Regions from separate parts of the Homo sapiens genome. Here region 2 is linked to region 1. The links come from fine-mapping of genetic effects on gene expression. A gene starts in region 1. The other region holds a variant in brackets. All regions are shown on one strand. Distances are between the middles of the regions. Region 1 holds the start of IL16 (interleukin 16). Region 2 overlaps IL16 (interleukin 16).

Region 1 (5,377 bases):
GGACTTGCAGTTGACAGAGCCGCTTAGTACAGAAGCTGGGGCTTATTGCTCTGACCCTAAGCTCTTTATTTTGCCATTGTTTGAACAGAATAGGAGATGACCCTGTTGTGTCATTTTAAGGACACACTTTCTTTTTGCCTTCTGAATATGTTTACTTGCCACAACAAACATGTATTACTTTTATAACTAAAATTTTGAAATTAAAAATTTTTGTAATTTTAATTTTTTAAATTAAATTTAAATTTGTAATTGTAATTTTAATTTTTAAAAATTAAATTAGAATTTTTAAAATTAAAATTTTTTAAATTAATTTTTCAAAATTTATAATTTTAATTTTGTAATTAAAATTTTTGTAATTAAAAATTTACTTTTGGAAATAAAATTTTGTAATTAAAAAATAGGAGAATTAGAAGGAAATACAGGTTATTGATTATGAAACTTTAGCAAGCATCAGAATCACTTGTTGAACAGATTTCTCAGTTCCGTGGGCTGGAAGGGCCAAAAAGGTGAGCAGGCTTCTGCTTGGTTAGCTGTTGGCAGCATGCTTCCTCCTCTATTGCCTCATTCTCTCAGTAACACTGTGCAGTAGAAGTTTCTAATTTCATCTGGCAGACAATTAATTTCATCTAATTTTCATCGTAGCAAACTAAGGCTGTGAATGACCAAGATCACACAGGAAGCTCTTGGTTGAGCTTCAAGTGGTGCTTGAACTTCCTAGTTCTAACCAGGGCGGGGCTCTCTCACCTGCGTCTTCCTCCCCGTCTCTTCTGGCTTGCAGTGAGCTGGACTATGGAGTGTTGGGCAGGGTGGAGACTCTTTCTGCAGGATGTCCTGAAGGGCAGAGGGGTGATAAAATTTCCACCTTGAAGCACAAACCACCCCGTATTAGGAAAAATCAGGGCCAAGTCTCAACTACACTTTGGAATAAATTTACCTTCTGAGAGTGAGAAAGAACAGATCTTCGGAAAATAGAGGGAGAGGCGGGAACTGGATTCAGGTGCCGATGACAAGAGAGAGCTTAGACTTAGTGGAGGAGGGGGGCTGTGGGGCCCTCCCAGGCCTCAGGATCCAAGAAGGGCAAGGCCAGCCCCCATAGCCCTGGGGTGCTGAATTGCTCCTCAGCCTCTCTGCCAGAGCAAGATGGAAGTGGGGCCTGAGTCTGTCCTGGCCCCACCGCACCCAGGCCATTGTGAGAGAGATTGTGGGTGTGAGCTGAGCAGGCGACACTGACAGAGGCGCTCACTCTCTGCAATTTAGAAATTCCTTCACTGCACTCCAGACTCACTCCAGACTCAGCCCTACAATGTCCCCTGTGCCTGCTGACAAAGGCAGCTTTATCCCCAGAGTGCTCCCTCCTCCCGTGCTTCCCTTGGGACCGTGGGCCTGTGTTCTCCAGCAGCAGCGGCTAGATCTTTGCAGCCTTGCATGGAATTTCAAGGGCTTCCTACAGGTTGCACCTACACCCTCATTAAAGCCCCCAGGAAGCCCTGAAACATTTGGTGCTGAGCGTTGGGAAACATTCCATTCTTTAGAAGAGAGGTCCATACAAAAACCTCAGCCTAGCATGTACACAGGGCTCACAGAGACTGAGCTTAGGAGAGATGTGTGGGATGCTCTTTGCGGGGCAGATGGATTAAATGCCACCTTATGATTAGATTCTCCAAGGGGCTACGTGGGGGAAAGGCACTCTGGTCTCATGACACTAATGCCAACAGGACACACACAAAAGTGCCCCATTCTTTTATGCTGCAGTTTTCAACATGCTCTGTATACGTTAGGTCATGGGCTCTCGCACCTGAGCACGCACCAAAATCACCTGGAGGCTTTGTGAAAACAGAGTGCCAGAGGTGCTGCTTCAGGAGGTCTAGGCCAGGGCCTGAGAACTTGCATTTCTAGCAGATGCTGCTGATGCAGCTGGCTTGAGGACCACTGAGTTACATAAGCTTCTGAGAGCCAGTCTGTTGTTTTTGGGAAAGGGTGGCACAGACAAGAAATGAAATGCTATGGAAAAAGCCTGGGCTTTGGAGACAGGTGGATTTTGACTTGCTAACTTGCTAACTGTGTGACCTTGGGGAAATTCCACGGCACGTAGTAGGTGTTTAATGAACGTTTGTGCAGTGGCTTTCTTTGTCTGCAAAGCAGGTGATATATTTACCAGATTGATGGCAGGATTGTATGTGATGACTTTTTTCCTCTTTTTATTAAATTTTTATATAATTTGAGAGGAGTTCTTGCTATGGTTTGCCCGGGCTTGTCTTGAATCCCCCGGCTCAAGTGATCCTTCTGCCTCAGCCTCCTGAGTAGCTGGGATTATAGGCACGTGCCACAGCTTCCAGCATGTGATGAGGTTTATAGAAAGCTCCTAGCAGCGTGCCAGGCACATTGCAGGCACCGAGTCATGTCTGCTACCTTTCGGCTCTCCTAGTCATTTCTGTGTTGTCCAAAGAAGGCAGGGGCAACTGGGCTGGACCAAGGAACCTCACTGTGGTTCTGTGGCTCTGCACTGGGTTTGCCTCCTGGGTGTTGCCGGCCAGCCCAGCAGATGGTGGACCTTGTTCTGAGGCTGAGCTTCTCAGCACTGGCAGCCCCCCTTTTTGGATCAAGCCTTTTCACGTGGAGCAGTCAGATGGCTCAGATCAGGAGTCTTCGAGCAAATCCATGCCAGGTGGGACACATTTGTCCTGAGTCACCTGTCCAGAGCAGGTGGTGAATATTGTGTCCTACTCACGGCATCTCAACTATCGGAGCCTGGGATCTGACTCAAAGGCCGGCCTCCGTCTGAGAACTGAGCGTCCATTTCTCAATCCTTGCCGGCTCTGACCCAGGCCTGGGCCACAGGCTGTCCGGGAATAAGTGGTGCTGCAATCCCTGCTGGGCAGATGGAGAGAGGAGCAAGGGAGATGGCAGCCCCGGGGGACTGTGCATAGGGAGGTAGGTGGGCACCAGGTGAGTGAATGTCTGTCAGGCAGCTGCTCTGTCCAGGTGGCCGTTACCGGAGGGAGGAAGCTGGCCTCTCTGACCTGAATGGGGAGGGTCTTGGTTGCTAGGACGTAACTTCATATTTGGAAGTGGTGCTGGGGTCAGGGGCAGGAGCAGAAGCCAGGATTGTGTTGGTAGGAATCTCTGTGTCACCATGTCACAGTTAGGTACAGGAGGAAGCAGCTTCAGAAGGCCAGAGCGGGCAGAGGGATATCGCTTGACCTGGCTCTGCAGCACGGGGAGAATTTGGTCCTGAGATTTCTGACTTTTCAGCCTCGTCTCATCCTTGGCAATGGGGTGTGGAAGGAGGTGGAGGAAAGGAAGGCAGCAGGAGAGAGAAAGGCCACGGGGCACCTGATGGGGGCTTCTCTGCTGCCTGGCCAGACTCCTTTTCTCCAAAGTGGGCACAGCGGGTGGGCATCTCTGCAGATTGACCATGGGAAAAGTGTTCACTCTGCTTGCTTTTTGATAAGGGTCCCGTGACTAATTCCTGCATTGGTAGGTCCCAGGATTGGTGTTTTTTTGTTTTTGTTTTTTGTTTGTTTGTTTTTTTCTTTTTTGGTCCATAGCAAGTTTGCTTTCTGTAGCTGGAGAATGAGGTAACAGCATAAGAATAGAGGTTCCCTGTGGAATACAGGGAAGCATCTTCTCCTCCTGCCCTTATCAGGTGAAATCCTCCCACTTCAGGCTGAGCCATACAAAGACGACCCCTTTGTCCCAGGAGGCCAGTTCAAGCTCCCACTGGGTTCCTGGAAGCAGCCTGGGAGCTGCCGTCTCTGTGGCTCCCCTTCCTATTTCTCCAGTTTCCCCCGGAAGGAGAAGACCGTTCAGCCTTTTTCCTCCTCTGTTCTCCTTCTTTACCCTGAAGTTAAGTGATGGTCAACATTTACGAGCACAGTAGAAGGCACCTCCCCTGCTGCAGATATGACGTGGGCATGAGCCGTCAGGTGGGTCAGACCCTTGAAGCCTCTACTGCTCATTTATTCAATCCCCAGTGAGTCTTTTAAATAAAACTTAGTACCCCAACCATTTCCTGGCCACTCTTCAAGCCCCAGGCACCAAGCTAAAATATTCACATACCTCATTTAATTTAAACCTTACAACAACCTGGAGCTTAGGGAGTATATCCCCAAACCGAGAGGTGAGGAGGCTTGCACAGGACCACTCAGCTAGACGTTCCCAGGACCCAAACCCAGCTTGACTCCAAAATCCATGCTCTCACTGGCTTTGTGGCATGCCTCAATAAATACTTGAGTTTCCTCAACACAAAGATGGTCATATATCCATAGGGTTAAAAAATAATCTCTGTTGGATGCAATTGACTATAGAATTATTATTTTCTAATTGTTTGTATTCATGGAAACCTTTTTAGAATTAAAATCTATCATGAAAACTCATGTATAATCAGTTAAGGCAGAATTATTTTGGCAGAGGCAGACCAGGACCTTGAGACCTGCCCTTTTGTCAACCCCTCCCCCTTTCTGGTTCCCAGCAGTGGCCCAGGGGTATAGGAGTGAGAGGGAGGGAGGTACACTTTGAATTGAAATCTACTGGCCAGGTACAGTGGCTCACGCCTGTAATCCCAGCAATTTGAGAGGCCGAGGCGGGCGGATCACTTGAGGTCAGGAGTTCCTGACCAGGCTGGCCAACATGGTGAAACCCTGTTTCTACTAAAAATACAAAAATTAGCCAGGCGTGGAGGCACATGCCTGTAATCCCAGCTACTCAAGAGGCTGAGGCAGGAGAATTGCTTGAACCCGGGAGGCGGAGACTGCAGTGAGCCGAGATCATGCCACTGCACTCCAGCCTGGGTGACAGAGGGAGACTCCATCTCAAAAAAAAAAAATATATATATATATATATATATATATATATAAAATACATATTTTTTATTGTGCATTTGAATTGGTAATACATTTTCATATATAGGTTACGTTTTGCTATTAAAAAGCAATTCATTGTGAATAGCAATATGCTCATAAACACGGGGAGAAAATAGGCATGGGGCAAAATAAACAAATAGTTCCAAGAACTTGGAGTTGTGGTTAACTAGGAAGGCAGCTTGAAATCAGGAATTTACTTCAAGTTCTTCTTTTGAATTCCTGTTGAAATAAGGACGAATCTATGTCAGTCTTGTAAACTAGACAGTGTTGCTCAGTGTGTGCCAGAAACACTGAGAAGTCTCAGTGGATGTCTCAGGTGGATGTGAAGGACGTTGGGTGGAAGGGCGGAGCCCATCAGGAGGGAGGCGCTGTTCTTGCCACATCTGGAGATGCTGGAGGAGAGGTTTGCTTTGAGTGGGAGCAACTGGTAATGCTGGACAGTGACCCGATGCTGGGATCCCGCGTGGAGATCTCCATCGGTCTTGCCCCTGGCTGAGTCTTGGCATGTGCAGCTG
Region 2 (5,377 bases), 110 kb after region 1:
TTTAAAAGTAGACAATGTCAGAGCTTTTGTTTCACCCAGTATTCCTCAAGTTTCTTTGATTTTAAAAAATTTTTCTTGGCCGGGTGTGGTGGCTCATACCTGTAATTCCAACACTGTGCGGGGCCAAGGTGAGAGGATTGCTTGAGCCCAGGAGTTTGAGACCATCCTGGGCAACACTGGGAGACCCTGTCTCTATTTTTTAAAAAATAATAGGAAAAGCCTTTTTCTTACACAATACCCGTTAATATGCCATAGAATCAGTGCCTTGAGAAAACTACTCTGGGGACTTCTGACCTAGGGCAGGTGAAGCAAAAGATTTTATATGGAATCCCAACTAGAATCGTGGTGGTACACTATAGGACGTTGTGTTGGGATGGATTCTGAGGGCTTACCTGGTCATTACTGCTGGTGATCTCTGCTCTGGATGGAGAAGGAGGGAATGCTGGCCTCTGTGCCAGCAGCTCCAATCTAGGACACAATTATCTTTAATCTTTGTTGGCCTAAAAATCCTCTAGCATTGACTAACCGGTTCAATCCTCCTCCAGCAAGTATGTGGACTGGACTTGTGTGATTTCTGGTCCTGACTTCCTTTGGTTTGCTCAGGTTCACAGAGTGTTTCCAAATGGGCTGGCCTCCCAGGAAGGGACTATTCAGAAGGGCAATGAGGTTCTTTCCATCAACGGCAAGTCTCTCAAGGGGACCACGCACCATGATGCCTTGGCCATCCTCCGCCAAGCTCGAGAGCCCAGGCAAGCTGTGATTGTCACAAGGAAGCTGACTCCAGAGGCCATGCCCGACCTCAACTCCTCCACTGACTCTGCAGCCTCAGCCTCTGCAGCCAGTGATGTTTCTGTAGAATCTAGTAAGTTCTCCCAACTCAGTGGAAGCCACATGGGCCACATCCTCTTTGGCCATTTGGGGCCAGACCTGATGGGGCTACTCAGTAATTTGTGACCCCAAGAATGTGTGGCTGCCTAGTACACTGCCTGAGACGTGTTTACATGTGCCTGTGTGCAAACACGGGGGCTGTATCACCCCGGGCTCACTTGAAGCCCAGGGCATCTGTGGCCTGGGAGAGGAGAGGATCCCTAACAGAGACCTTGTGTTTTTCTCAGCAGCAGAGGCCACAGTCTGCACGGTGACACTGGAGAAGATGTCGGCAGGGCTGGGCTTCAGCCTGGAAGGAGGGAAGGGCTCCCTACACGGAGACAAGCCTCTCACCATTAACAGGATTTTCAAAGGTGTGGGGTGTGTCTGGTTCTTTGCGTGCTCTCCAGTTGTGGGCATGTGGCCAGGCCCCCAAAAGGCTTCTGGGCACTTTCTGGGCTATGTTGTTTCCCACAACTCCATGTCCTCTTCATAGGCATGCTGGTCCTTTTAGGGCTCAATTCTGCTTTTTCTACTTTTTCTCCTTTGCTCAGACATCCCCTCAATCCCCCCTCTGTTTTGATGGGTCTTCAAAAATACCTAAGTCCTGGGCTTGGTTCGGGTTGGCAGGGCCAGGACTCTAGAGTGGGGCAGTGAGGCACTGGCCTGTGGGGCAGAATTTTAAAGGGGTGCCAAAACACTCAGTAACTCAGATCGATACTATTTTAATGCAGCGTGTTTTTTAAAATTAATTTTAAAAAAACATGTTGGACAAAATATCCAAGTTTAAATCAAGACAGAGTCTGACTTTGTACTGCACACTTGGCCTCATTTGCCTTACCCTAGTCCTGGACACGTCAGCTCCTGCCTTTATTTAAAATGTTGATAGATATTTTGTTCATCAGGGATTGGAGTACAAACCAGTCTGATATGGGGGTCACTTGGATTTCCCTGTGAAAATCATGAATGACTGTGGCTACCATGTAAAACCATCCCTGATTCTTTGGTGTTCCTCAAATTGGAGGTCTCCAAGCCACAGAGCAAGGGGTTGTAGAGAGAGGAGTACTGGACAGGGAGGCAGGTGGGCCAGGTTCTAGTCCCAGCTCTGCCTGTAATGTGCTGAGTGACCCTTCCCTTCTGGGCCTGAGGCTCTTCATCCATAAAAGGAGGTAAAGAGGTACAGGTGTGTGTCTGAGGGCTCTTAGGACTGAGACCCAAAGGGACTCTTAGCTCTGTCCCTCACCCACTATGAGCTCCTGCTGCTGACTGGTTTCGTTAGAGGAAGTTCTGCTGCGGCTGCAGAAACCCAGAAGGTAGAGTGAGGCTTACATGGCATTCCCCCCAGAATCCATGTTAACCCCAATTCTGGGAAAGATATTTCTAATTTTTGAAGGTCAATTTGGAAGGAGCATTGGGTTCAATGTCAAGAGGACTAGATTCCAGTGTTAGTTCTGCCACATGACCTTGGTAGCATGATCTTGGACAAGTCACTTCACCACCATGGGCCCATTTGCTTAAATGTTTAGGATGAGACTGCCAGCTGCAGGGTGATGTTGGAAGGAGAGATGCAGATTCTGGAGCCAGAAAGTCTGGGTTCCAGCCCAGGGCCCACCACTAGCAGCTATGAAGCTCTGGGCCAGTTACTTGAGTTCTTGGTTTCCTCAGCTGTTAAAAGGAAACACAAATAATACACCCCTCATAGGATTACTGTCATAAATGCAAAACATTAGCACAACGCCTGTTAAAATAATTGCCCAATACACTTTAGCTATATTTTCATTACTATCATTAGTATTATCTTCTACTCTTATCAGGATTTGTGAAGATCACTGTGTCAAATGGATGGGAAATTTTATTTTAATATAAACAGTAAAATAGCATTGTTTTCACTTGCAGCTTTGAAATAGTGGGGGCCATATATGGTTGTTTCCTTTTTTATGTGGACACAGAGGACTTCGTGCCAGAGGCAAGATCCCTGTAAATATTGTTGCACAAAAATCTCACTAGCTCTCTTCCCATACCACCCAATGC[T/G]GATGTCCTCACCACATGCGGAGAACAAATGTGAAGGGAGTAGGATATTGGGTCAGTGTCCAAAGCAGGGTCTGGGCAGGACTCAGCTCCCCAGAGTCCTCTATGAACTATGGACGGTGCTCCAGGCAGGCTAAGGCGTGGAGCTGCCTGATATTTCCCTCCCCTGGGGACAGCAAGGGCTATCCCTTTCCAAAGGCCATGGAGAGCTGGAGCCTGGTGCCCTAACCTCTGAGTCACCATCTTAAGAGATGCCTCATTTTAGAACCACCAACAAGCAAGCTCCCAAGGGATGGTGCCCTGTTCTCTACCAAGCTATCCTGGCTCTTTGGAGATCAAGGAGAGGAGGCAACTTTCCTTGTTCCCCATCATCTGTGGAACCCATTACCTTCTCCCTCATTTCAGGAGCAGCCTCAGAACAAAGTGAGACAGTCCAGCCTGGAGATGAAATCTTACAGCTGGGTGGCACTGCCATGCAGGGCCTCACACGGTTTGAAGCCTGGAACATCATCAAGGCACTGCCTGATGGACCTGTCACGATTGTCATCAGGAGAAAAAGCCTCCAGTCCAAGGAAACCACAGCTGCTGGAGACTCCTAGGCAGGACATGCTGAAGCCAAAGCCAATAACACACAGCTAACACACAGCTCCCATAACCGCTGATTCTCAGGGTCTCTGCTGCCGCCCCACCCAGATGGGGGAAAGCACAGGTGGGCTTCCCAGTGGCTGCTGCCCAGGCCCAGACCTTCTAGGACGCCACCCAGCAAAAGGTTGTTCCTAAAATAAGGGCAGAGTCACACGGGGGCAGCTGATACAAATTGCAGACTGTGTAAAAAGAGAGCTTAATGATAATATTGTGGTGCCACAAATAAAATGGATTTATTAGAATTTCATATGACATTCATGCCTGGCTTCGCAAAATGTTTCAAGTACTGTAACTGTGTCATGATTCACCCCCAAACAGTGACATTTATTTTTCTCATGAATCTGCAATGTGGGCAGAGATTGGAATGGGCAGCTCATCTCTGTCCCACTTGGCATCAGCTGGCGTCATGCAAAGTCATGCAAAGGCTGGGACCACGTGAGATCATTCACTCATACATCTGGCCGTTGATGTTGGCTGGGAACTCACCTGGGGCTGCTGGCCTGAATGCTTATAGGTGGCCTCTCCTTGTGGCCTGGGCCTCCTCACAACATGGTGTCTGGATTCCCAGGATGAGCATCCCAGGATCGCAAGAGCCATGTAGAAGCTGCATCTTGTTTATACCTTTGCCTTGGAAGTTGCATGGCATCACCTCCACCATACTCCATCAGTTAGAGCTGACACAAACCTGCCTGGGTTTAAGGGGAGAGGAAATATTGCTGGGGTCATTTATGAAAAATACAGTTTGTCACATGAAACATTTGCAAAATTGTTTTTGGTTGGATTGGAGAAGTAATCCTAGGGAAGGGTGGTGGAGCCAGTAAACAGAGGAGTACAGGTGAAGCACCAAGCTCAAAGCGTGGACAGGTGTGCCGACAGAAGGAACCAGCGTGTATATGAGGGTATCAAATAAAATTGCTACTACTTACCTACCACATGCCAAGCACTGTGCTCAGGGCTAAACGGGCATTGCCTTTAGTGATCACAGCAGCTTCTACGGTGTATGGTTCTGTGCCAATGTATTGATAAGAGGGCACACACTGTGTACAGTAAATGGCTTATCCAGCTGGTGAGTGATGCGGCAGATTGAGTTTTCTTCTGTGATTCGGTGGAGACTATCAGCCCAAGATGCTTTAAGTGCACAACATTACAGGGAATGCCTGAGTGCCTGGCCAAAGGGATATTTGGTTTGGCCATCTCTGGATGCCTGATTGCCAAGCTCAGGACCAGGCAATGTGACTTTGCATCAGCAACAACCAGCATCCCTTGACCAGGCCTGGGCCAGAGTATTGGTCTCCTCTCAGCCCCTGATCCTGTGAAGTAAGGATGTGGGGGAAGACCTGGCAAGGACACAGATGAAACACAAACAATAGTAATTCTCAGGCCATCATCAGTGGAGCCATGTTAATGTAATCTGATGGCTTCTCCAGGGTCCACAGGAAGTGAAGAATCTGTTTCCCAGCAGTGGACTCAAAACCCATCTGGGCTCCTAACCTTCCTGTAAACCCCTTTAGTGGCTTCATTAGAGCAGGCGTTCAGCTCACTGTTCTATTCATCTCAAGGAATAATGGGCTTAGAGCAGTTTCTGTCCTGCTGGTTAACTTGTTTGGCCTATTCCATTCTGGATTTTGTCAAGCAGTAGACAAGCAATTAGACAAGAACTTGGAGGCACCATTTGTATCCACTTTTTAGACTTAATAGAAACATTGAAGATGAACATAATCTACCAACGAAAGACGTGATTCAATTCAACACTCCCTTCCCATGACCCAGGCTGGGCAAGGAGGCCACGTGATGTGGAGGGCACATTCCTTGCCTGCACAAACTCACCATCTGTGCA

What was found.
Region 2: its variant is fine-mapped to the expression of IL16 in whole blood (TOPMed, PIP above 0.99).

What each region holds. Positions count from the first base shown.
Region 1 is chr15:81,194,207-81,199,583 of GRCh38, forward strand. IL16 (interleukin 16) reads left to right here and starts at 2,673. Exons shown (of 19, transcript NM_172217.5): 1 at 2,673-2,946.
Region 2 is chr15:81,305,305-81,310,681 of GRCh38, forward strand. It overlaps IL16 (interleukin 16), which reads left to right. Exons shown (of 19, transcript NM_172217.5): 17 at 604-862; 18 at 1,116-1,241; 19 at 3,301-5,377. The coding sequence ends at 3,494. It overlaps STARD5 (StAR related lipid transfer domain containing 5), which reads right to left. Exons shown (of 6, transcript NM_181900.3): 6 at 3,749-5,377. Among named protein-coding and RNA genes, the nearest start is that of STARD5, 16 kb to the right of the region's middle. RefSeq lists a silencer at 3,250-3,427. The variant T/G (reference allele first, on the strand shown) is at 2,899.